Linked DNA regions of Homo sapiens: regions 2, 3 and 4 are each linked to region 1. The links come from fine-mapping of genetic effects on gene expression. A gene starts in region 1. Each other region holds a variant in brackets. All regions are shown on one strand. Distances are from middle to middle. Region 1 holds the start of PLCH2 (phospholipase C eta 2). Region 2 overlaps PLCH2 (phospholipase C eta 2). Region 3 overlaps PANK4 (pantothenate kinase 4 (inactive)). Region 4 has its middle 20 kb from the start of PEX10.

The links. PIP is the estimated chance that this variant, and not a neighbour inherited with it, causes the effect.
Region 2: its variant is the best candidate, but not a certain one, in a credible set for the expression of PLCH2 in whole blood (TOPMed, PIP 0.65).
Region 3: its variant is the best candidate, but not a certain one, in a credible set for the expression of PLCH2 in cerebellar hemisphere (GTEx, PIP 0.59).
Region 4: its variant is the best candidate, but not a certain one, in a credible set for the expression of PLCH2 in lung (TOPMed, PIP 0.88).

The regions. Positions count from the first base shown.
Region 1 is chr1:2,473,965-2,479,636 of GRCh38, reverse strand. It overlaps PLCH2 (phospholipase C eta 2), which reads right to left and starts at 3,348. Exons shown (of 22, transcript NM_014638.4): 1 at 2,925-3,348; 2 at 1,015-1,161. The coding sequence starts at 3,048.
Region 2 is chr1:2,500,213-2,505,884 of GRCh38, reverse strand. It overlaps PLCH2 (phospholipase C eta 2), which reads right to left. Exons shown (of 22, transcript NM_014638.4): 21 at 3,476-3,773; 22 at 353-1,963. The coding sequence ends at 672. Among named protein-coding and RNA genes, the nearest start is that of PANK4, 24 kb to the left of the region's middle. RefSeq lists an enhancer at 5,614-5,672. The variant G/A (reference allele first, on the strand shown) is at 2,580.
Region 3 is chr1:2,509,521-2,515,192 of GRCh38, reverse strand. It overlaps PANK4 (pantothenate kinase 4 (inactive)), which reads left to right. Exons shown (of 19, transcript NM_018216.4): 11 at 727-839; 12 at 1,104-1,191; 13 at 2,154-2,305; 14 at 3,510-3,565; 15 at 3,806-3,855; 16 at 4,411-4,515; 17 at 5,036-5,136; 18 at 5,263-5,331. Among named protein-coding and RNA genes, the nearest start is that of PANK4, 14 kb to the left of the region's middle. The variant C/T (reference allele first, on the strand shown) is at 2,977.
Region 4 is chr1:2,430,074-2,435,745 of GRCh38, reverse strand. It overlaps a transcript of PLCH2 not described here. Among named protein-coding and RNA genes, the nearest start is that of PEX10, 20 kb to the right of the region's middle. RefSeq lists a silencer at 5,398-5,575. The variant T/C (reference allele first, on the strand shown) is at 2,677.

The sequences.
Region 1 (5,672 bases):
CTTGCCCACCTTTGCGGGACCCTCGGCAGGGCTCAGGGTCCAGAGTTCAAGAACCAAGGGTGAAGATCTGCGAGACTGCACAGCCCCCCACTGCTGACCCGTGTCCCTCCCCCTTTCCCTTTCCTGTGGAAAAGACACGCCCCCACGAGGGAGAGCATCCACCTCCCTCCACCTGCAGCCCCCAGTGCCCGGCTGGCCCGGGGCTCCACGTTTAACCAGCACGTCTCCACGTTCCAAGGAAGCCCCTGGACACCTCCAGGGCTCCAGCGCCGCAGGTGGGGACAGCGGCTCCAGGGACCCCCAGCTCCGCGCTCAGGTGCATCGAGGCTCTTGTGACCTCAGGTCCCCCTGGGGGCTCCGCAGCGCGACTCTCTCCACGGGCCCAAAGTGGCTACACGCTTGGCAACTGCTGGGCTGAGGCCTTGCCTGGCATGCCTGGGTCCTGACCATCAGCAAAGCCATCAGAAACCCTGGCTGCGCCCTGATCCCAGCCCTTGAGGACTGCCATGTCTCTCCCCAAACCGTGGGACCCTACCCGTTCCCTGTGTGCCTCAACTCTCCCCACCCACCCCCTGCACAGAGCCTCCATCTCGGGTGGCCCCTGCTCCCTCCAGCAGCCATGCCCAGTGGCTGCCTGAGCCACTGTTTGCACCCATACCCATCCATCAGCATACCTCTGTGGGGGTCGTTTCTGTTTATGGGGAGCTGTGACCTCCCCAGCTAGATGGACTATGCTGTGCCCCTCCTTCCAGCCCAGCACTCAGCACAGGGCTGGGCACAGTGCTACTCGGTCCTCACTGAGTCCCAGGGAGCTCTGCCAGGCGGGCAGGGGGCCTGGATCCCTCCTACCCCACAGCCCGAGGTCACTGCAGATCCCCAAGGCCACTGAGCCCAGAGGTGTCCAGGCCTAGGGTCTCGCTGCTCCTCAGCCATCAGTGGCTGCCCTGGGAGGGTCCCTACCGTCGTGTCCCCCCAGGGACTCTGATTTGTCCCCACCCCAGGGCTCCCACTCACTCTTGGCCTTCTCGTTCTTGCGTGAGGGCCTCCAGCGGATGCAGGAGCGGTGCTCGTCCAGGTAGTAGAAGCGGACCAGGCCCTTGGAGCCGCCACGCAGCTTCACCATCTGCATCCCCTCTTGCATGGCACCCATGCACCGCTCCACTGGACACGGGAGAGACACGGCTGTCAGCGGAGGCACAGCCACTCCTCGCAGGAGAGACACGGCCGTCAGCGGAGGCACGGCCACTCCTCACGGGAGAAACACGGCCGTCAGCGGAGGCACGGCCACTCCTCACCTCGCCCGGCCCCGCCCACACCGCCCTGCCAGTGACAGGGCAAAGGCCAGAGCCCAGGGCCACCTCCACCCCAGGTGCCGGCTTGCCTGGGTCACACAGCTCAGCTGGGCCCTGCCACTCCTCCCCAGATGGTCCTGGGAACTGAGGGCCCTGCTCCCCACCCTGCTCGGCCACCTGCCACTCCCACCACCTCCTGGACCAGTCCTAGCAGCCCTGGTAACCGGCGCTGGGCCTGGGGCCCCGAGAGCTACCACTCAGACGGAGCCAGCACAGAACTCAACAATGGGAAGGCCGGGCACGAGGCAAGACAGATGAGGTGGCTGGGCTGGCTGTCTGGGGCCATAGTGCAGTGGAGGCCCCTTGTCAGGGGCGGGGTGGGCCTAGCAGGCAGCAACCCCATGCCCCTGCCCCCGCCCCTGGCCACAGGTGGCTCCTGGGAGCGGTCGAATTCCTGAGTGCCTGTGCCCCTGCCTGGGGCATCTCCAGGAAAGCCCCCACCCCTCATGTGCAACAAGCGCCACGAATGGTGCCATGAATGTCTGCGTCGCACGCCCTGCACTGCAGTATGGACTTGGGAGGCTGTGGTGCCGGATCCGAGCTTCACAACCCCTCCCCTCCCCTCCCCCAGGCTGCCTGCCTCGCTCCTTCTCTCCCCTCCTCTCTCCATTCAGCCTCCTGCTGTAGCTTGTCCCAGGAGAGGGGGCTGCAGGGTCCAGGGAGTCCAGGCCAGAGTCAGCTGTCCCAGCCCAGGAACAGACTGGTCTCACCCCCTCGGTTCCTGCACACCTGCTCACAGAAAGCCCGGGTCCCAGAGGTACCATCTGCTAAAGCACAGAGACGTTAATCCCCACCCCAGGTCTGCACGCTGAGGGACCCTGGCGGGGGCGTTGTAGAGGACCAAGGGCAGTACTGGCCGGGCCTTCTTGGGGAAGCTACTACGTGATCACGAGCAGAGGGGAATTGAAGGGATGGAAGCCATGGCATGGGGGGCTGGGCTCTCCGGGGCACATGGGAGGTGAAGACGCAGGTATGGCTGCAGGGATTTAGGAGAGGGGTGAGGCAGGACACAGGGGCAGGGGGCGGGCAGAGGCCTGCAACAGGGCAGCCTGGACAGGACCCTGTCTGCCGCTGGAACAGAGAGCTGGCAGGCCAGCCCGGACCGGGGCCCTCCACAGGCCACCACAAGACACACACTCCACCCTCCCAGCCATACCCAGCCAGTCTCCTCTGCAGAGTCTCCTAACGGCAAAGGCCCTCATGTCCGGCACCAGGATGCCAGCCCAGCCGCCTGGGCTGCAAGCACCACTGACCCCCAGAGCACAAGGCACCCCTTCAATGAGAGCATTGGAGCCACCTGAGATCCCCCCTCGCCCCCTTGGGTTCAGCCCCCAGGCCCTGCAGGTGCCTGGGAGACCGAGGTGTGCTGAGCACGCCTCTGAGCGGCTGAGGGGCAGGGCCAGCCGACGCTGCTGGACCCACATGATCCCTAGAGCACCCGGGGGACAGGGGAGGCGAGTGCAGGATGGGATGGAGGCCCAGGCTTCCCCCACCTCCAGGAACAGCCCCCACCCACCAGTCACCTGGCCAGGGCCAGCACTCAGCCCAGGCCACTCGCCTGCCCCTTCTTACCCAGGGGGCCGAGCTGCCACTCTGAAGACAGCACCACACTCCCTCCAACCCAGAGGAGTACCTCCGCCAGCCAGGCCACCGTTCCCTTGGTCCGGCTGTCGGGGGAGGGCCATGGACCAGACATGGCCTGACGACAGCCGGGCCTGCTTCACGGAGGCCACAGAGGCCCACCGGCCTTCGGGCAGCGGAGGTCAGGCAGTGGCAGCGCTGGCGACAGGACCTCCGTGGGGCCTTCTCTCCTCTGCCTCTTCCTCCTCCTCCTCAGGGCCCTCCGAAGCCCCCACAGGGCTGTGCCCAGGCCCGGCTGGCATTGGCCTGACCGTCACCTGCTGTCCTGATGGCCCCCAGGCCAGCCTATCCACCCTCCAGGGCCACCAAGGAATCCCTGACGCAGCCGCCTCCCAAGGCTGGGGGAGCAAAGGACCTCAGCCCCGCCCAGCCCCAGGCCCAATCCCTGTGCTAATCCCAGCTCCAGCCCAGCTGGTGGAGGATTTAGGCCGAGGGAACTCCCAGCTGGGGATGGGAGGGCACTGGGGAGGCAACAGAGTTTCCCAAGGCCCCAGGCCACCAGACCCAGGTCAGGGCTGCGGGACAAGAGCAGGACCAACGGGAGGGCCCTCCTGGGACCCAGAGAACGCAACCGGAAGGCCTGCAGGGTACTGTCCTCCGAGGACCCTGTGTGGGGTGGGCCTCCCCGCTGTGCGCCCACCACAGATGCCGAGGCTGGGCCTGGAGTGGTCCCTGCCCTCACCCCGCATCCCTACTTATGAGGACCTCTGAGTGGATCCCCAAAGTCCAGAGGCAGGTGGCCCAGAGCAGGGGCAGAAGCTCACCTCATCCCCGCAGCGCCCAGCCCCTGTGGCTGGAGAGGGGAGCCGAGCCGGATCCCTTACAGCGACAACTCCCAGCCCAGGCCCAGGATGTGGGTCCCTGAGCCTGGGTTGGGCTCTCCATGTCTCCCTCATGCAGCTGCAGCCCCAGCCTGACCTTTCTCCACGGTCACCGAGCTGTGGCGGAGGAGGTGGCCCCATGCCCAGGGCACGTTTGTCCCCACATTCTGCCCTGCAGGGATGACAGCCATCTGACCTGGACAGGGGCCTCGCCCAAGGAGGACCCACCCCACCGTCTCAGCTCCCACTGAGGAAAGGACTCCAGGTCCCACTGCCACCAGGACCACACAGCCCACCCTGTGTACTGGCCCCGCACTACAGGACAGCACAGGCTCTCCCATCCCCAAGTCCAGGCCGGGACACCAGGGGCAGCTGTGGGAATGGGAGGTGGGCAGACCCCGGCTGAACACCAGCCACCTGTGTCCTGGCCATGCCCATGCTTCGTGACCACACTGGGGAGAACCCCGCCCTTCTTCCCACCCACTGCCCAGGCTCTACTGGCTCCAGCAACAAGGACTGGAAGGTTCCGGGCAGCTGCTCGCCTCCCCCCATACCAGGGGAGGAGTTTGGCCTGCAGAGCCCAGGACAGGGAGGTGCCAGGGCTGGGCATCCTGGCAGAGCCCCGGGGCCAAGGTCAGGCGTGGGAGGTGGCAGTCCCTGAGGAGATGGCCATGCGTCTCCAGCTGACCACTGACAACCAGGGCCACACCCAGCCAGATCAGATGCAGTCAGCACAGAGCCAACCCAGGCCCCCACCAGGGGCCCCGTCACAGGCTCTGCTGCTCTCGGCGGAAGCAGGTCAGCAGGCGTTTCTGGGCTCTGCCGTGGAATTAGATTAGGGAGCCATGAGCTGCAGGGAGAGGAGAGGGGCTGGAGTCCCGGGCGTCCTCAGGAAGACAGGGCCTCGGGGAAGGCCACCGTGTAAGGGGCAGCGCAGGGGCCAGGAGGTGGCCTGAGGGCCTGGAGACAGACCAGACGGCCATAGCCCTGGCCCAGGGCCCCTGCCCACCTCATACTGGGCTGCTGCGGGCTTCCACTCTGACCCAGGGGGTCCAGTTCTCCTTCCTGCACCTCAGAGGCCTCCTGGCCTGGGACACACCTGCTGTTCCCTCACCCTGGGCCTGGCCCCAGCTGGGGGTGCTCCCGTCTCTCACCCATCCCTCCTTGAAGCTCCCCAAGGCTGGGCCTCTGCTCCCTCCCTCCCTCCCTTGAGCTCTCAGCCACTAGCTGATCCCCCATCAGCTGGGGTTAGGGCTTGGAGGCCGCCATCTGCCTGGGCAGGGGTTCTGAGAGGAGCCACACATAGAGTGCCTGGCCCCAGCCCCACAACGTGGGTCCCAGGCTCCTGCACCCCAGGCCCCCTGACCTCCTCAGCAGCAGAGCTGGAATCCTCAACTGTCCAGGCGGGTGGAGGCCTGGCTAATCCCTTCCTGACACAGGCCTCTGCCGGGGGCTGCCCTGCCTGCCCTGAGGTCCAAAGGGACCGCCCACTCCCCTCCAAAACTCAGGCAGACACAGAACCGCAGCTGCAGCGTGAAGCCGGGGGTGCCCCGGGCCAAGAGACGTGGCAGGGGCCCAGGCCCAGAGACTTAAGAACCCCTCCCCACGTGCTGCCTGTGAGCCGGCCCAGGGCCCAGCCCAGCCCCCACACAAGGTCACGGAGGGGGCTGCCCCACCCCCATGCCGGCAGGCGAGCCCAGCCCCACAGCCTGCACTGACGGGCCCTCATGCTCACCCTGCCTGCCCTGAGCCAGGGCCCGGCCATCCTGAAAGCCCACAGGGAGGCCGAAGAAGCCACGCTCTGCTCTGTGGTTCCACACAGGGGCCCAGCCCTCAGCCATGGTCCACACCCACCCCC
Region 2 (5,672 bases), 26 kb before region 1:
CTTTTCTTGGGGTGTCTTCTGGGCCTGGCGCAGGCTCCGACGGGCACCTGGTAAGTAAGTGGCACAGGAGGCTGAGCGAACGGGAAGCCCATGCGTGCTGGTGAGCACGTTTATCAGAACCACGTTTGGGAGTTGACAGAGGCTTAGGCATGGTGCAGAGGGTGGCGTGGTCGGTGCAAGGCAGATACAGGCTTCAGGGCAAGGCCCAGACGGCCGTCCTGAGCAGCCCTGGTGCCTCACAAGCACCCCCGCCTGTGCCGTGGCCAGGTCAGCCGCGCCTCCCGGGGCAGGCTCAGGACAGGTGCGCACAGATGCACACCACACACACCTGGGGTGAAAAACCAGGTAAAAATGGAAAGGGACTTGGTATCATTTTAATGTTGTATAAGTTTTGCTTCTAAAAATTTAAATATTTCTCTATGTACAGATCCTAAAACGCCGGGAAAACTGCCTGGCAGGGCCAGCCTCGAAGCCCCTCCTGTGGGCCCCGGGCCAGCAGCTTTAGCCTTTCCTCCCCGGGAGCAGGGGCAGGAGGGAGGCAGGGGTGGAGGGGACACAGGGCAGCCAGGGGGACACAGTTTTGGGGGCCTGGCTGCCCTGTTTCCTGAGCAAACAACACGCCCACCCCTGCCCTGGGCCTCCAGAGCCGCCCAGGTTCCCACCACTGACGGTCAGAGGCGGAGCAGGACCAGGTTTTCAGCAGCCGCGGATGCTGGCCCGAGGGCTCCCTTGGAGGGTGCTGGTGCATCCACACTGCCCTCGTGGCCCACGGAGCAGGCGCCCTCGGGGGTGCCCCGCTCCTCTTCTGGGGGTCCCTGCCGGCCCAGGCCCTGCAGTCTCTGCTGCCGCTCCTGGGCCTGGCGGGCCCGGCTGGCAATGGCACGCACGCGGCTGTGGCTGCGGGAGGAGGAGCGCCGCACAAAACCAGGGCCCCCTGCCACCCCCTCCCCAGCCGGGCCCAGGCTGGTGGGTGACGTGATGTCTCCTGCCTGCTGGAAGACAGTGAGCCAGCGCAGCTGCTCTGTCAGGGTGTCCCGTCTCACCCCTGGCCCCGACACCCGCCGTGTCCCTCCCGGGAGGCCCAGGCTGTGGCTCAGTCTGCGGGAGCCGCCCTCAAAGCTAGGGGCAAAGTCATCAGCAGTGAGGTCGCCCAGGCTCTTGGACTTGGCAGCCACGGGGCAGTCCTGCACGCCCACCAGGGAAAGGCAGCCCCAGGGAGGCCGGAAGGGGAGGCCAGCCATCCTTGGGGCCAGGGACCTGGGCTGCAGTTCGTCAGGTATGGGAGGCCGCTGGCCTGTAGCCCGAAGGTTGGGGTTGGATTTGCTCTTGGTCACAGGTGGCAGGTCTGGGCGGGCAGCCGAAGCCGAGTGGGGCCTGGGGGGCAGGCGTCCCATGTGGGCTCCAGCGAGGTTCTCACGGCTGCGGCCCAGGCCCAGGCTGGGCAGGGAGAGGTCAATGACAGTGTCGCTGGATGACATGCTGGAGGAGGAGGAAACGCTGTCTCGGTGGCCACATGGCTCCAGCCGCTGCCACAGCGGGTCACTGCCCGTGGCATCGGAGTACACGGCAGGAGCTGGAAAGGGAGCGGCCAGGGGCCGCCACCCTCCCAGGGGCTCCGTGGGCACCTGCCCCTCACTCTTCACCCTTCTAATCACGGGCAGGTGGCCCAGGGTCCGGGGCTGGCTCCTGCCGTCCGTCTGGCTGCCGGGGGCCCTCTCGTATGCCCCGCCGGCGCCCTCGCCGTTGCACGGCCGAGGCCTGCTGTCTCGGGGCTCCTCAGTGTCCTCTAGGGGGCTTGCCACATTGGCTCCGGGTCCTGTGGGGTATGGGGGCCGTCCCTGAGAAGAGCTGGTGGGGACAGCCGCTGGTGGCGGGGGACCAGGGCCTGGGGCGGGCTCCTCAGCGATGGTTTCCAGGCTGCACAGTGGGGGGAGTGGCCGCTGCGTGGAGAGGGGGCGGGTGTCTGTGGGGAGGTGGGGGAGTGAGAGAGAGCCAGAGGGAGAAGCAGAAGAGAGAGAGGGAGGCAGGGAGAGAGGCGGAGAGGAGTCGGATCAGGGTGGTGTCCCCGGTGCCCTGTGCCGAGGGTCGCCAGGCCCAGCTCCCACCCCGAGGCATCCCCCGGGCGCGGCACACTCGGTGTCCCCACCCTGCTGCTGCTGGGGCCCAGTCCACGCCCTGTGCCGCACACGGGGCCCTCCTTGGGCTGGGACAGCACGGGACACCGGGGCTGGGCCCCGTTACCTGTCACTCGCCGCTCTCAGTTCCTAACTACGGAGGCAGCGTGGGTGGGGGCAGAAAGGAAAGCTTGGTCAGGGGGGTCTGGAGGGGCAGGGTGGTGTGGGGCGGGCTCCGTGTATGTCCCTCCCTCCAGGCTAAGGAGACACCCTTCTAGTGGGGTGCTTCAGCCCAAAGCAGCGAAGCCCTGGGGCCCAGGGAATCTACTCCACGCAGCACTCAGCAGGCTCCAGGCGTCCCAGGGGCGCAGGAGACGCCCAGCAGCTGCACTACCTGCCCACATCAGACTTCCCAGTAGGGACCCCTGGAGCCTGCCCTAGAGGGAGGTGGGAATGGGATGGTAC[G/A]TGGCCCCCAGTCCCAGGAAAGGCATCAGGGGCCATGCAGGTCGCCAGCCGCCCAGGAGGTGAGTTTGGGGAAGCGCCCAGCCGGAGGGGCCCAGCATGTCAGGCCACAGTCCCGGCCCCAGACCCTCAGCAAGAGCAGCTGGTTCTTCCCAGCCTGTCGGGCCTCAAACCAGCTCCACCCAAGTCCCAGGGCCTCAAGCTCAGACAGGAGGGCTGGGGCTATGGGCCACAGGCAAGCCAAGGGAGCAGAGTGCCACGGAGACAGTGCCACGGATACAGAGCCACGAGCACGAGCACACGAGGCGACACCGTCCACGCAGAAGCAGCAGCAGGTGACCCAGGCCCAGCCATGCCAGGGGCGTGCGGGAGGACCACGCAGGGCAAGAGGGGCTTACCGGCGGAGAACATGGGGGATTTACTCCTGATCTCCTCCAGCTTTTGAGCAAACAAGGCACTCATCTCTCCCTGCAGGGCCCCCGGTTGCCTGCAGGCACCCTCAGGCCAGCGGGGGGACCTTTCGGGGATGCCCGGGCTGTCTGGGCTGCTGGAGTCCGAGGACATGGAGCCGCTACCGCCTGGACCCTGCCTCCAGGCCCCAGGACCCTTGGGGGCCTCTCTGCTTCTCCCCGGGATAGCGTGAGGGTCCAGGCCACAGCAGGGGGCCCCCAGTGAGTCAGCCCGGGCCCGGGGCTGCTGGCGAATGGCTGCCTGCCTGCTTGCAGGCCCCGGGCTGGGTGGCCGCTCCCTCTGCAGGCCCCCGGTGTTCACGCCGGCGCAGGATCCCACCACACACTTCATGCATGTGGCGGCCATCCCAGCAGGCCCGGGGCCGTCCAGGACACGCGGGGGCCGCACTCGCACAGGGCTCTTCTCTGCCACCGCAGCTGGCGCCTTACCTCGGGGGCTGCCGCTGCCGGGCCCCTCCTGGGCTGGGGCTTCCGGAGCAGGTCCGGGCCCGGGGGGCACCACATCGTCTGCCACCCCCTTGGAGCCTGTGTCCCGTGTACCCAGGACCAGCTCCGGGAAGCCCCTGCGGCCCGGCTTCTGGCTCTTGGTCGGGGCGCTGGCCGTGCGCCGCAGGATCCGCTGGCTAACGGAGGGCCGGGCCGGGGGCCGCCCAGCAGCATGACTGTCCAGCGAGCCGGGCTTTGGGCCTCGGAGGAAGAGGCCTTTTAGGCCCAGAGCCTGCTTGACCTGCAAGAGAAGGAGCCCATGTAGCTGTTGCCAGGGGTCCCAGCCCAGCTGCAGCTGCTCCCCCAGGGCCAGCTCTCCAGACCGTGCCACAGACGTGCCATGCGTGTCTCGGTCCGAGGGGCTGGGCCACCTCAGGCTGGGGGTGTGTGGACACACCAGGGCCTTCAGGAGCAGGGTCCCTAGGGCAGCTCTGCCTGGGACAGTAGCTGCTACAGATCTAAGTACACATGGCCCACCCCACCCTTCCGGCAGAAACTGCCCTCGCCTGACCTGTCCAGGGCATGTGGGGCCCTTGAGGGGCATGGAGAGAAGGTCTTTCCCTCCGGAGGAGAGACCTCGAGCCCCAGCCTGGCCCACCACAGCCTGCACCTGCTCAGAGGCCCGCAGCCCCCGGCGCTAGCAGGGGACACTGGCGTGGCACTCCCTGGTTGTGTGTGCCCCACCCTCAGGCAGGAGTAGCTGGTCCACAGCAGGAGTAGCCAGGTGCAGCGGGAGGCCCACTTGCCCGGCCCGTGTCCTGCCCACTCCCATGGTGATACTCGTGCCCTAGGAAGTACCACCTCTTCCAGGAAGCCTTCCTGAATTCCCCCAGGCAGCCTTTTCTGGTCTTGCCCTGCCCTCCACTCATGTGAGCCCCCAAGGCCCGCAGCTGGCTTGCTGCCCCCTGAGCCCTGCCAAGATGGGCTCAGACTCCCAGCCCACCAGCACCTGGCCACAGCCAATCTTCCTGGACAGCTGGGCCCAGGAGGTCCCTGCCTGGGCAGAACAGCTGCTGAGAGGGAGGCAGCCGCATCTCCAGGGCGCAGAGGCCAGAGGGGCCCTCACATGCCAGATGCCCCCGAGACAGCACCCACCGCGCCCCCATGACGAGCCGTGCTCGTGCACAGAGCGGCCCAGGCCCGGCAGGTGGGTCACCCCCCTGCAGGGGCGCCTCTGGGCAGATGCGTTCAGATGGCCAGCACTTGAATCAGCTTCCTGATTCAAGATCCCAAATCTACGCATTTGGTCACAGTGGCTGGGAAGCCATTTAGAAGCAGATCCGGGATTCTGGCTCGGAGCGCCGGCCTCAGGGGTGCCCTCATCCCATGCACTGGCATGGTTGGCAAGGACAGGGAGGGAGTGGGAGGCGAACTCAGAACCAACAGCCTGAGGGTCCGAGATGGGGGCAGGAGAGAGAAGGAGGGGGATAGGAGGGGCACAGTGGGGGCTCCAGCGGGCTGCCCGCCAGGGAAGGGGCTGAGGGAGGGGAGGGAGGACTGAGGGAGGGGAGGGAGGACTGAGGGAGGGGAGGGAGGACTGAGGGAGGGGAGGGAGGACTGAGGGAGGGGAGGGGAGGAGAGGCCAGTGAGAAGGCGGCCACCCAGCTGAACCCTGGATCTGCCTCGTAAATGCCACTATGGCTGGGGATGGCCAGGGCCCCCGGAGCCATGTCATGATCCACGTCACATGAGCGACAGTCTCCAAATGCTACCAGGAATCATGGATGCTAATGGGGTGCGGCCTGGGCATGCAGGGGCGGCGGGCCGCACTGTCCCGCGCACCGGGTACCTTCAAGGCTCCTAACAGAGCTGCACTTCTAAAAGTAGGCTGTGGCCATAGAGAAGCCGACTGCAAGACCAAAGAGACAGGGGGAGCAGGTGAGGCGGCCACAGCAGTGGCGTGGGGAGCCCTGCAGCCTGGGGGACGAGGAACAGATGGGTGGATAGACGGCAGGGGCTGGATGGCACCTCTGGGCCCGAGAGCATGGCAGGAGAGAGTCAGCACTGGGCCTGGGCAGGCCCCTCCTGCTGTGTGTGCGGGTTCCCCGAGGGCCAGCTGCAGCCAGCAGGACCCAGAGGGCACTGGGCCCCAGCTCAAAGCCAGGGCAGCAGGGCTGGCACCAAGACCACTTCCTGCGGA
Region 3 (5,672 bases), 36 kb before region 1:
AGCAAGCTCCCGGCGAGGCCACCTTGGGACTCCTGCGTCCCACCTTCTCCAAGGCTGGGCTGGTCCCGTGGAGCAAATGCCAGGCCCTGGGCCACGCTGCCCCTCAGGAGCTCAGCTCGGGGCCAGGGAGCCCCGGTAGCAACACGCACTCTTCACGAAGCCCTCGGAGAGGCCGGGTCGTGCCAGGGTTTGTCCTGAGGGAGGAGTCCCAGCCCTGCCCAGGACCCGGAGTGAGCTCTGAGTGCCCAGAGCCCCTCGTCCCCGGCACAGGATGGGGGCTCGAGTCTGAGGACGTGGGTCTTGGCCTCGGGTTTCCTGGGGGGTGAGGGACCAAGGTCACTCCTGCTCCTGCCTCCCAGGGCAACTGGGAGGGGCGAATGGCAAAGGGAAGCCTCGGGTGACCGTGAACTGTCACCGTCAGCCTTTCCTGTTCCAGTAGAAACTGCCCTGACCACAGCCCAGGCAGCCCCCACCCTGCCCGAGTCCCCCACAGCAGGCCCTGACCCTGCCCCGGGAAGCCCCCCATAGCTAGCCCCCACCCTGCCCCAAACAGCCCCCGACAGCCGGCTCCCACCCTGCACCAGGCCTCCTACAGCCGCCCCCACCCTGCCCCAGACAGTCCCCCACGGCCGACCCCCACCCTTCCCCGAGCCCCCTGCTGTCACGTGGGGATTCGCAAGCAGCAGGGCCAGCGCTTGACTAACCCCCTCCTTCTGTCGCTGGCAGGTAGTGAAGCGCGCAGTGGCGAGCCAGCCAGACTCTGTGGATGCAGCCGAGAGGGCGGAGAAGTTCCGGCAGAAGTACTGGAACAAGCTTCAGACCCTGAGGCAGCAGCCCTTGTAAGTGCCCAGCACCCCGGTGTGTGGCCACCTCTTCCATCCAGAGGGCCCCTGCACCTCTGAGAAAGTGCCGTGATGTTGGCATTCGGACCCCAGCTCGCTGGGGGTGGGTGTGGGCCCTGGCGGCACAGCCCCCTTGGACCCCGCCTCAAGCAGCGTTTGCACTGCCGGGCTCCTGAGGACGTCCGTGGCACAGCCGAGGATGGCAGACGGGCGGGTGTTCGGCCTGCCCTGCTCAGCGCCCTCTGCCGTGTCTGTCCCCAGCGCCTATGGGACCCTGACCGTGCGCAGCCTGCTGGACACCAGGGAGCACTGTCTGAACGAGTTCAACTTCCCGGATCCCTACTCCAAAGTAAGTGCAGTGTGCCCTGGCCTTCCGCTCGCTCTTGTCCCCGTCCCGCTGGCACCGCGTGTCCTGTCTCTGTCCCGCTGGCTCGGGGCATCCTGTCCTGTCTGAGGCCATGCAGGTTTGGTAGCGGCCCCAACTCCAGCCCTGGCACCACAATAGCCAGGGCCTCTGTTGGCAGCATCTGCTGAGGAGCTGTGTTACCCCCACAGATGCTGGGGCCACTTAGGGGTGGGGACTGCTGTGACTAGAGAAGAAGGGTGTGAACCCCAGTTTGGATGTGTTCCTGACAGACACAGGCTGCCTGCCTGCAGGAGCCAAGGGCCTCCCAGCTTCTGTGAGGGTGGGCGATTGTGGTTGGGGACTGCTTTCCCCTCATGGGGAGGGGCTGGAACCCTGGACCACCCTGGCTCCCTCCTAGGAGGCTGGACAGTGACCAGAGGCCTCCTATCCCGGCAACGTGCAGGGCCGTGCAAGGTGGGCCTTTCCGGGCGTCCGTTTTGCTTCCCCAAGTCTGGCGGCCAGAGCCCTCCTTGGCCCTTTCTGCCAGGAGGCAGCGGGCAGCAGCGGAGGCATGGACTCCTCCCACCTCTTCTGGGAAGGGCCAGCGCCATGCCTCCCTCCCCTCACACGCCGAGCCTTGTGACAGCGGAAGTCTGGGTGTCGAGGGTTTTGAGGCCAGGGCTGTGGGTACCTGTGGGGGCCGTGTCCTCCACTCTTGTCCTGCCCTTCACCCACTGCTCAGTCACATGGGGGCTGAAGTTGTCCTGGGCCTCGTCCTCAGAGCCCCGTGCAGCTGTGCGCTGGCCACTGTCCCGGACCGATAGGCTTGTGCCTGGTGGGGTCCCAGTTGGGCCTGAGTCTTCGATCCTGAGGGGCGTGGTATGGAACAGGCTGCGCCTGGCAGGTGTCCAGGGTGGGCTGAGGCCACGTCTTCACTCAGGCCTGGCATCTGGCACTCTCCACAGGTGAAGCAGCGGGAGAATGGCGTGGCGCTGAGGTGCTTCCCCGGGGTCGTGCGCTCCCTGGACGCGCTGGGCTGGGAGGAACGGCAGCTGGCGCTGGTGAAAGGCCTCCTGGCGGGGAATGTCTTCGACTGGGGGGCCAAAGCCGTGTCTGCGTAGGTGTCTGCGGGCTCGGAGCAGGCTCTGCAGCCTGTGGGTGCCTGTCCTGCCCCAGGCTTGCGGGCAAGGAGGTGGAGCGGGTCCCTTGGGGGTCACGTGGCGCTTGGTGGCTTGGTGGCTCAGGGCTTTGGGGCCCAGGGAGTGCACATGGCAGCAGCGCCAGGGGCTGGGCAGGGCGCAGCGCCCTTGTCTGTCCCCTCAGGTTCTGAGGAGGCCCCTTCCTTAAGCATGGGTGCCGCAGAGGCCTAAGGGTGTGGATTTGAAAATCGGGGCTGGCATTTTCTATTGTCAGAATCCAAATTCATGTTTCCTATGTGTGGTAGGAATTAAACATTTCTGATGTGATGATCAAAGGGTGCTTTGCAAAGCAGTCCCCTAGACTGGCCTGTAGGACACGCAGGTGTCTAGCACCTGGCGCCGTCTCCTGGGGCTCTGAATCTTGAAAATGAACCCCCCCACCATCATTTACCTTCACTCCCAAAGAAGCTGCTTCCAGTCTCTGGGCCTCCCCAGGCGGCCGCACCACCTCTCGTGGTCCCTGCTTTTTTTCATGTGGGGCTGGAGGGAAATGCCTGGGTTCTCAGCCCTCCCTGGGTCCCACTCGTGTCTCGAGACATAGATGAGAACGCCGCCTCCAACCATGGCTGCCCCTCTGGGACACAGGCCC[C/T]TCCCGCAGCCTGTCAGGAGCATTGGAGGAGGGTCCTGACCCATGGGATTGGCCTTGTGGCTGGGGGCTCCCCACACCGCCTGCATGGGTGCCAAGCACAGGGACCATACTGCGGCTGCCAGTCACCGAGAGGCTTCCCTGGCCCCGTGGCTCCGAGTCCACCTTGAGAAACAGCCTGTGCTCTCTCAGACCTTTGCTTGGTGGCCCCCTGAGCCTTCTGCGGATCGCAGCATGTTAAGAACGCTGTATCTGTTCTGCCTGGGAGTGATTTGGGGTCTTCACGTTGAGCAGCTGCCTCTGTCCCACCTGGGAGGGATTTGGGGTCTTAGCAGCTGCCTCTGTCCTGCCTGGGAGTGATTTGGGGTCTTCACGTTGAGCAGCTGCCCCTGTCCCACCTGGGAGGGATTTGGGATCTTTACATTGAGCAGCTGCCTCTGTCCCGCCTGGGAGGGATTTGGGGTCTTCACATTGAGCACTGTGGCTGAAGGTTTTTGTTCTGTTGTCTTAATTTTCTTTTCTCCTCCTCCATGCAGTGTCCTTGAATCCGACCCCTACTTTGGGTTTGAAGAAGCAAAGAGGAAGTTACAAGGTACGGATGGCCAAGTAACTTGGGGCCTTGCCTTGTGCTGGGGCCATGCCTGGACGTTCTCTGCAACAGCGAATGCAGTTGCGGTCGGGGTCCAGGCACCTCCCCTGCTCAAGGCTCTGTCAGCTGGGCTTCGGGGGCGGGGAGAACTTGCTTCCTGGAGAGACGAACACCTGAAGACGCGTCTCCCTGACCCCTGACCTGGAGCACCGGGCTAATCATGTGTCCCTCTCTCTGTCTCAGAAAGACCCTGGCTCGTGGATTCCTACAGCGAGTGGCTTCAGAGATTAAAGGTATGTGGAGGGGCCTCCCACCTCTGCTGCTGGGGACACAGCGGGGCCCGGGGGGGTGGTCACTGGAGGGAGGTGGGCATGGGCTGCCTCGGGTGGCCCTCCCCTCCTGTTAGAGTCTCACCATCCTGCGAGCCAAGGGTCTCAGCATCCCCTGCCCCACACTTGCCCTCCTGTCGTGACTGCTTCTTAGGTCACCTGCTCTAGGCACAAAGCCTTGCCAGAAGAGACAGGCACTGGCCCCTGCAGGCCAATCCGTCCCTGGCGCCTCTGGGGTCCTGAAGCCCCAGTCTCAGCCCCTGCAGGCTGGCCCGTCCCGGTGCCTCTGGGGTCCTGAAGTCCCGGTCTCAGCCCCTGCAGCCCAGCCCAGTCCCGGCACCTCTGGGGCCCTGAAGCCCCTGGTCTCGGCCCCTGCAGGACAGCCCATCCCTGGCATCTCTGGGGCCCTGAAGCCCCCAGTCTCGGCCCCTGCAGGGCAGCGTGACGGGCAGCAGGGGTGCGGACTGACTCGCTTGGATGCGCCTGTTCCCAACTGAACGTCCTGGTTTTGTCTTACAGGGGCCCCCTCATAAATGTGCCTTAATTTTCGCAGATAACAGTGGAATAGACATCATTTTGGGAGTCTTCCCCTTTGTCAGGGAGCTACTCCTTAGAGGGACAGAGGTGAGTGTTGAGGTGGTGGGTGGGGCCCTTCCCCTGGGCTTCTCTGCTCTCGGTGGGGTTGGCGCCGCTGTGGGCCTCTGGCGGTGGTCGGGGCTCCTCCGGACGCAGCAGGTAGGTGCAGGCAGCAGCACGGGGGAGGCGGCCCAGAGCCGTCATCTGCTGGGGTGGAGGCTCCGAGCCCCCTGGGCTCAGGCTGAGGGTCCATGTGCTGAAGCCCAGGGTTGACGCCAGGCTCCTGGAAGGGTGCTCACAGCAAGGAGGCTTTGGGGCTGTGACTTCACAGACAGGCAGGTCCCAGGGGCAGGCTCTAAACTCAGCTCTGCCCCTCGGCTCAGCTCCCTCCCAGGGGCCACAGAGTGGCAAGGTCAGGCGAGGTCCCTGCTCCTCAGCAGCAGGTGGCTGGCCAGGCCCGCTGGGCACAGCACCCTCACCCAGCCCAGCCACTCGAAGGCCGGGGTGCACGCAGGCTCCATGCTGGGCCAGCACAGGTTCCTAAAGAGCCTGGGCCCTCCTCCTGCAGGTCATCCTGGCGTGCAACTCAGGCCCCGCCCTGAACGACGTGACCCACAGCGAGTCCCTCATCGTGGCAGAGCGTATTGCGGGCATGGACCCTGTCGTGCAGTGAGTGTTGGCGGGCAGTGCTGGGGGGGCCTTGATGGGGAGGGGCACCAGCTGGGCAGAGTGGGCCATGGGGATTGTCACTGAACTGGGAGCTCCTGGGGGCACTGACCACCTTGTATCTGGCAGCTCTGCGCTCCAGGAAGAGAGGCTGCTGCTGGTGCAGACGGGCTCCAGCTCCCCGTGCCTCGACCTCAGGTAACCCCGCACCCTGCACCTGTTCTCTCCCTCCTGGGCTCTGTGCCCTCTGTGCCGTGCACCTGCACCCAGGTGCATGCGGGACACCGACCTCAGGACTGCCCCTGCGGCCTCTCCTGACCCCAGGCCCGGATTGATCTCAGGAGGGGACAGATATGCCATCCCCGAAGGTGGCCTGGGGAGGGTGAATGGATTCAGGGTCTGAGGTGGTTACACATGGGCTGGGTTTGGGGACTTGGGGCAAGAGGGGCCAATGTCCCTGTGGCCACTCAGCTGAGACCGAGGGCGACCTGGGCAGCTGCCCGGTGTCTGTCACCTCCGTGTCCCACATAGATGCCAGG
Region 4 (5,672 bases), 44 kb after region 1:
TCATCTTCTCCACCCTGGCTGTACTCCACAGCCATCAAAGGACCCTGGAAACCCAGTCTCCCCTCCTGGAGATCACAACAGGCCAGGCGTGCTGTGGGCTCTGAGAGCCGTGTCACGCTGCACTCGGGCCCTGCCAGCCAGCAACTATTCCCACCTCTGTCCTCCCCAGGGACCCCATTGAGGTCCCTGGCCCCTTCCCCAGTCCCTGCAAAGAGAGGCCCCTGCGCCTGCTATCCCCGCCTCACTAACACATGCCTCCAGCCTCCAGCCTCCAGCCTCCAGCCTCCAGCCATTTGGAACCTAAAACAGCTTTGCTGGTGCCCTCTGACTACCCAGGGTGGTGTGAGAGCGCTGGTCAGCCCAGAGCCCGGGGACCCCTGGGCGTGAGCCTCACTTCCCTATCCTCTCTGAGGAAACACCCCGAGCCCAGGTGCCCTCCCTGCAAGAGGCAGCAACCGGGCCCCACCCCCCACAGCCCCTGCCCGGCCTCTGGCCTGCTCACTGTCCGCAGGTGACAGGGGTTCCTGGAGGAAAGGTCCTCACCCCCGGGACCATCTTCCACATGCTCTCCTTCGTCCTGGTGAGCTCCACTCCTCCTCCCAGCAGAGCTCCTGGACTGCCCACTTCTCTGCAGCCCAGGCAGGACCATCCAGGTCAGTGCACCTGCCTCCTGCTGCTGACAAAGCCAAGTCCCTGCGCCCCGGTGTTCTGCCCGGCCTGCTGCATGCTGAGGCTCGCAGGCCACGGACTTCTCAGAACAAATCCCCCCTGAGAAGCCAGCTCTGGGCCACGGGGACACACTTCTAGGGGCCTGCCTTCCCGTGCGGGCTCAGCTCTCCTGGGCAGCCTGGGTACAGCATGGGCGCCCGAGGACATACGCAACCCACAGCTGATTCTGCCCGGGGGTGGTTTCCACGGGGAGCCTCGATTTCCAGGTGAAGCACATCATCAGTGCACGTGGCACCAGGGAGAGGAGCTTGCATGGCCCCAGAGTGGGGACACAACCGGCGAGGCTCTCCCCACTTTTAGTGCGGCTGGCAGCCCGGGCAGCCTGGGGCTCCTCTGCTGGCTGTGGGGGGAAGGGGGTTGCTGGAAGCCAGGCCCTTGCCACACTTGGCCCTTCCGGGACTGGAGGGTCCCACGGCCCAGTGTCCAGGGTTCTGCATCTCAAAGGAGAGTCAGGGCCCCCGAGGCCAGTGACAGAGCTTGTGCCGCCCGCACCTGGCGGCAGCTGCTTTGTCTACAAAGGCAGTGTTTAATTTTGCTTTCCACAACCAGACTGCATTCTGGATACAGCTGAGGAGACAGATAAGGAACCTGTGCGTGGGGGAAATACGCCCCTGCCAGAGGCCCTGTGGGTGCCCGGGAGAGAAGGGGCCCCACGGCACAAGGAGCTGGGGCCACCTTCCCAGGTTGTAAACGGCTGTGAAGGTGAGTCCGTGTGTCCTGCCTCCTTCTAGAAAAGCCTCTGACCTGGCTTCAGGCAGGGACTGACCTGGGGAAGGCGCGGTGCCCCCTGCCCAGGCGCGGCCCCCGCCGGCCCCTGGCACACCCAGCCACCTCCCTTGGTTGCTCAGTAAGAAGCTGAAGGTGGGAGCCTCAAAGAGCTCGGTGCACATACATCAAACGCCACCCAGGGAGACCCGCAGCCTCCAAGGAAACAACGGGAGACCCGCCACGAAGCCGGACGCGCGATGCCTGTGAAGGAACCTCCTGCGATGTTGATGGCAGCAGCTCGTCGAGTTTCCTGGGTGCCCGGGGAGACTGCACTGCTGCCCTTCGGAGCATGAGGCAGACACTCAAAGCCGGGCTCCAGGGGAAAATTCAAACGTTTGAAGGGACCAAACGGCCAACATCACCCGGGACCCCCAGTGTGGGCACATCCGTGGAGGGAGTCGATGGCTCTGAGGGGGTTTGGGGAGCCGGCAGGGGCTCTGCCTAACCCAGGCACCCAAAGCCACGAAGGAGCGGGGAGAGGTGGATGGCAATGGCTGGTCTGATTTTCTCCCTTGTCTTTTTCTGTATTTTCCAAAGCATCTCCTCTGAGTGAGTCTTGCTTTCATGATCAGGGAAAAAAGAAACATACAAGAGCCGCCAACATAAGAGCCGGTGTAGAGTCCGAAGGAAAACGCAGATCTGAGTGCACTTTGAAGTCAGAAAGCCCCCGGGGAGGCTCCTGCTGTGCGGACACACCGTTCCCACCTGTGCCAGCCTCAAGGCACCGAGACTGAGCCGCTCCAGCTCCAGCTCAGTGAGAATGGCGGGGACACATACTCCAGCAGCCCTGAACCCCAAGAGCCACAGCCTCCCGCTGGAGTACTCCAGGGGACAGGAGCACACCGGCCCGGATGGGCCTCAGCAGCCCCCGGCCAAGTAGGGCCATGCTGCCAGCCTCATCCACATGGAGATGCCAGGGAGGCCAGGCCACCAGCAGCCCCAGGTGCACATGCAGTCAGCCCCACAAAACCTGCCTGCCTCTGCTCCCAGCACCACCACCCACACCACAGCACACTGGTCCTCCCCGGACACCTGAGCACGTACACAGCGGGGGCCGGGAGCCAATCTGGAAGGGGAAGAGTGGAAGGAGGACCCCCATTTACCTTTGCTGGCTCAGTATTAGGGGGCAGCCTGAAGAAGGCTCCCACCTCTGAGTTCAGTGGGGCCCCACATCCAAGC[T/C]GTTCGATCCTCCCAGAGGGAAACACGGCCCCAACCTCAGGGATGGGAGGGGGCAAAGGGTGGGCACTTGAAGCTCAGCCATGGGCACTGGTGGGTAACAGGCAGGCAGGGTGCCCAGGTTCTTCCACCCAGCCCGTGTGTGCACCGGGAAGAGAAGGGAGCACTGCCACAGACCCCTCCCCACCTGACGGACGGGAAAGACCTCCAGGCGCCTCCCAGGGGCAGCTCCTGTGACAGCCCCTCCGGACGGGGGAGTTGGGGACCCTCCCTGCTGTGGGAGGGCGGCGGTGTCCGTCCAGGCAAGCCTGCACGGCGGGCTCTGACCCTCCACCTCTGGCATCCGGCCCCAGGCACTGAGAGGCTCAGGGATCAGGAGTGAAGGCTCCCAGAGCCTGGAGAGTGCACTGTCTGGGCAGCTCAGACCCTCATCATGCCCAGCAGGGGCCCCCGGGCCCAGGGCGCTGAGTGTGGGGGCCGGGTGCACACCCCAGCCTGTGCCATGGGCCCGGCCACGTGCCCAGCAGTCATTTGCATTCTCCCCCACCCGTTAGCCCCAGGAGCTGGATCAAGCTGCTCTAAATGAAAGCCCGTTACCACGGATACACAAGAACTGGGGTAAGGCAAATTGCACAGGGGACGGGGTGTGCTGTCAGCCATGAGGGGCCAGCAGGGCAGGGGGCTGGCCCCAGTGCTGTCCCACGGCCCCCAACCTGGGCCCCCTGCTGTCCACCTGCCCCAGTCCCAGCCGGAGTGCTCAGTTATTCACCCCCAAGCTGCACTCCCAAGCGGACCTGACCCCCATCCCCATCACTGCCCACCGCTTCAGGGCTGAGGGTGTGAGCCAGGAAGATGAGAGAGTCGGCAGCCAGGTGCCAGCCCCAGCATTGTGGGGTCCTCACCGCCTCATCTGCAGAGTGGGGCCTGGCCTCACTGTGGGCAGCCATGGCCGTGAGTCCCAGAGGAGGCAGCACGAAGCTGACGCCTGGTAAATGCACGAGGCTCCATACAAGCCCCCCAGTCTGGGACCCCGAAACCCAACAGGCAGAGCCGAGCCTGTCCTGGAGCAGGCCAGAGGCCCACACCACCCGGGGCACCTTGCCAACCACCACCCTAATGTGCACAGGTAACTGAGCTGGCATCAGTGGGGGCAGGCACCGACTCAAAGGAAAGGGACACGATTCCGGCTCAACCAAGAAGGAGCCTCCCAGAAAGGCCCCCAGGATGAGGGTAGGCCCAGCACCCAGCACAAGACTGCCCTCCCTCAGCATCCACCACCCAGGCATGGGGCGGGGACAGTAACAAGGGGTAGGAACGGAGAGGCAGGGACTGTGATGAGGGGCAGGGCCAGCAGCAGAAGGGTACACAGCAGGAGTCCTCTATCCTGGGAACCGTTGCCCCTGGACCTGATACTGTTTCTGCATATAGGACCGCTGGCTCCTCCCGCCCCCAGGCCCTGCCAGAGTTGGAAGCTCTCCAGGACTCTGGAAGCTCTGGAGAAGGGGGCGCAGCTTGCTCCCCTCCCCCATCTGGTCTCCCCTTTCCCCGGTGTCCATTCCAGACAGCGCTGAAAGCCAGGGCCCCAAGCCCGGCAGGGGCTGTGTGCAGCTCCCCAGGCGCAGCTCCACCCTCAGATGGCGAAGACCTGTCTGGGCATATCTGGAGAATGTGGCATTGACAAGCCGGAGCCACCTCTGTGAGGCACAGGCATGCACAGAGCATGAGCACACACACACACACACGCACTTGGGCACACACCATGTAGGCACAGGTGCAGACCCTCACGAGTGCAGGCAGACACACGCACACACGCACACACGCTCACCACTGCCATGGTTCTTGCCTGGGAGCGGCCGCCCAGAGAGCAGCAGGGGCCCCCAGGGGGAGCAGAAGCGGCAGATAGCGGTGTGCACACACACACACACGCACACGCACACGCAGGGCAGCCAGCCACAGGCCTGCCACTCCAGGGCATCCCAGCAGAAGCTCAGGAGCTCAGGGGACCAGCTCCACACCCCAAAGTCTCCACACTAGACCCCAGAGCTGTCCGCCACATCGGGAGGCCTTCGCCCTTCTGACAGTGACAACACGACCAAGAAGGAAGCATCGTGAGCTGCAGGGGCACCTCTCCCAGACCCCCCCAGTGCAGCAGGTGGGCAGAGAGCCATCCCCCAAGAATGAACCCACCCCCTCTCTGCCCACACGAAGGGACACACACTGAGAGCTCTTGAATTGCACGCCAGGCTCCTCTGCACGTGGCGGCCCCACCTGCCCTGGGGTGCTAGCAGAGCCCCAGTTCTCCCCAGGTGACATCACGGGACATCAGGGTCACTGAACTGAACCCTGAACCGTATTGTCCCTGGGCTCCAGGAAACAGAGACGCACTCAGCAGGAGAAGAACAATGTTCTCTGGCTTGGTGTGGGTAGCCAGGGCCTCACTCACCCACGGGCAGAATGTTGGCGCTCAAGAAAAGCCACCTGCTCTCCGGATCCGGCCCTGGGTCCTCAGGCGGAAGAGCTGGGCCAGGAAGGGGGCCGGCTGTCGGGGGAGCCATCATGGAGGGACTGAGGACTGTCGGTGGGGGCAGCAACTGAAAGCTGGGACTGGCTGGGATCACCAGCTGGGGCCGGCCGTCCACAGGAGGCAGGAGGAGGCTGCTCTGAGGTCTCTCTGCTCCCGGGGCCCCCGGTGTCCCTTGTCGGGGTGTAGCCTGGGCCAGCAGCGCATCACACACCTAGAGAGAGCAAGAAGGCCAGAGGGAGTTGGTGGGTGAGGTCTGTCCAGGCAGGTGCATAACTCGGGGGAGGGAGCACAGTGTGTGCCCAGTGACCCCTGCTGGCAGGCGCTGCATTGCAGCCCAGCTTCACTGCCCCTCATAGGTAAATAGGCCAGCGCAGTGGGGCTGGGTAGCTGTGTCTGAAGAGTCAGGTGGGAAGAACCAAAGGGCAGGGGAGGAGAGCCACAGGACCCTGCCCTGAAACCCCAAGTCTCTGGGGCA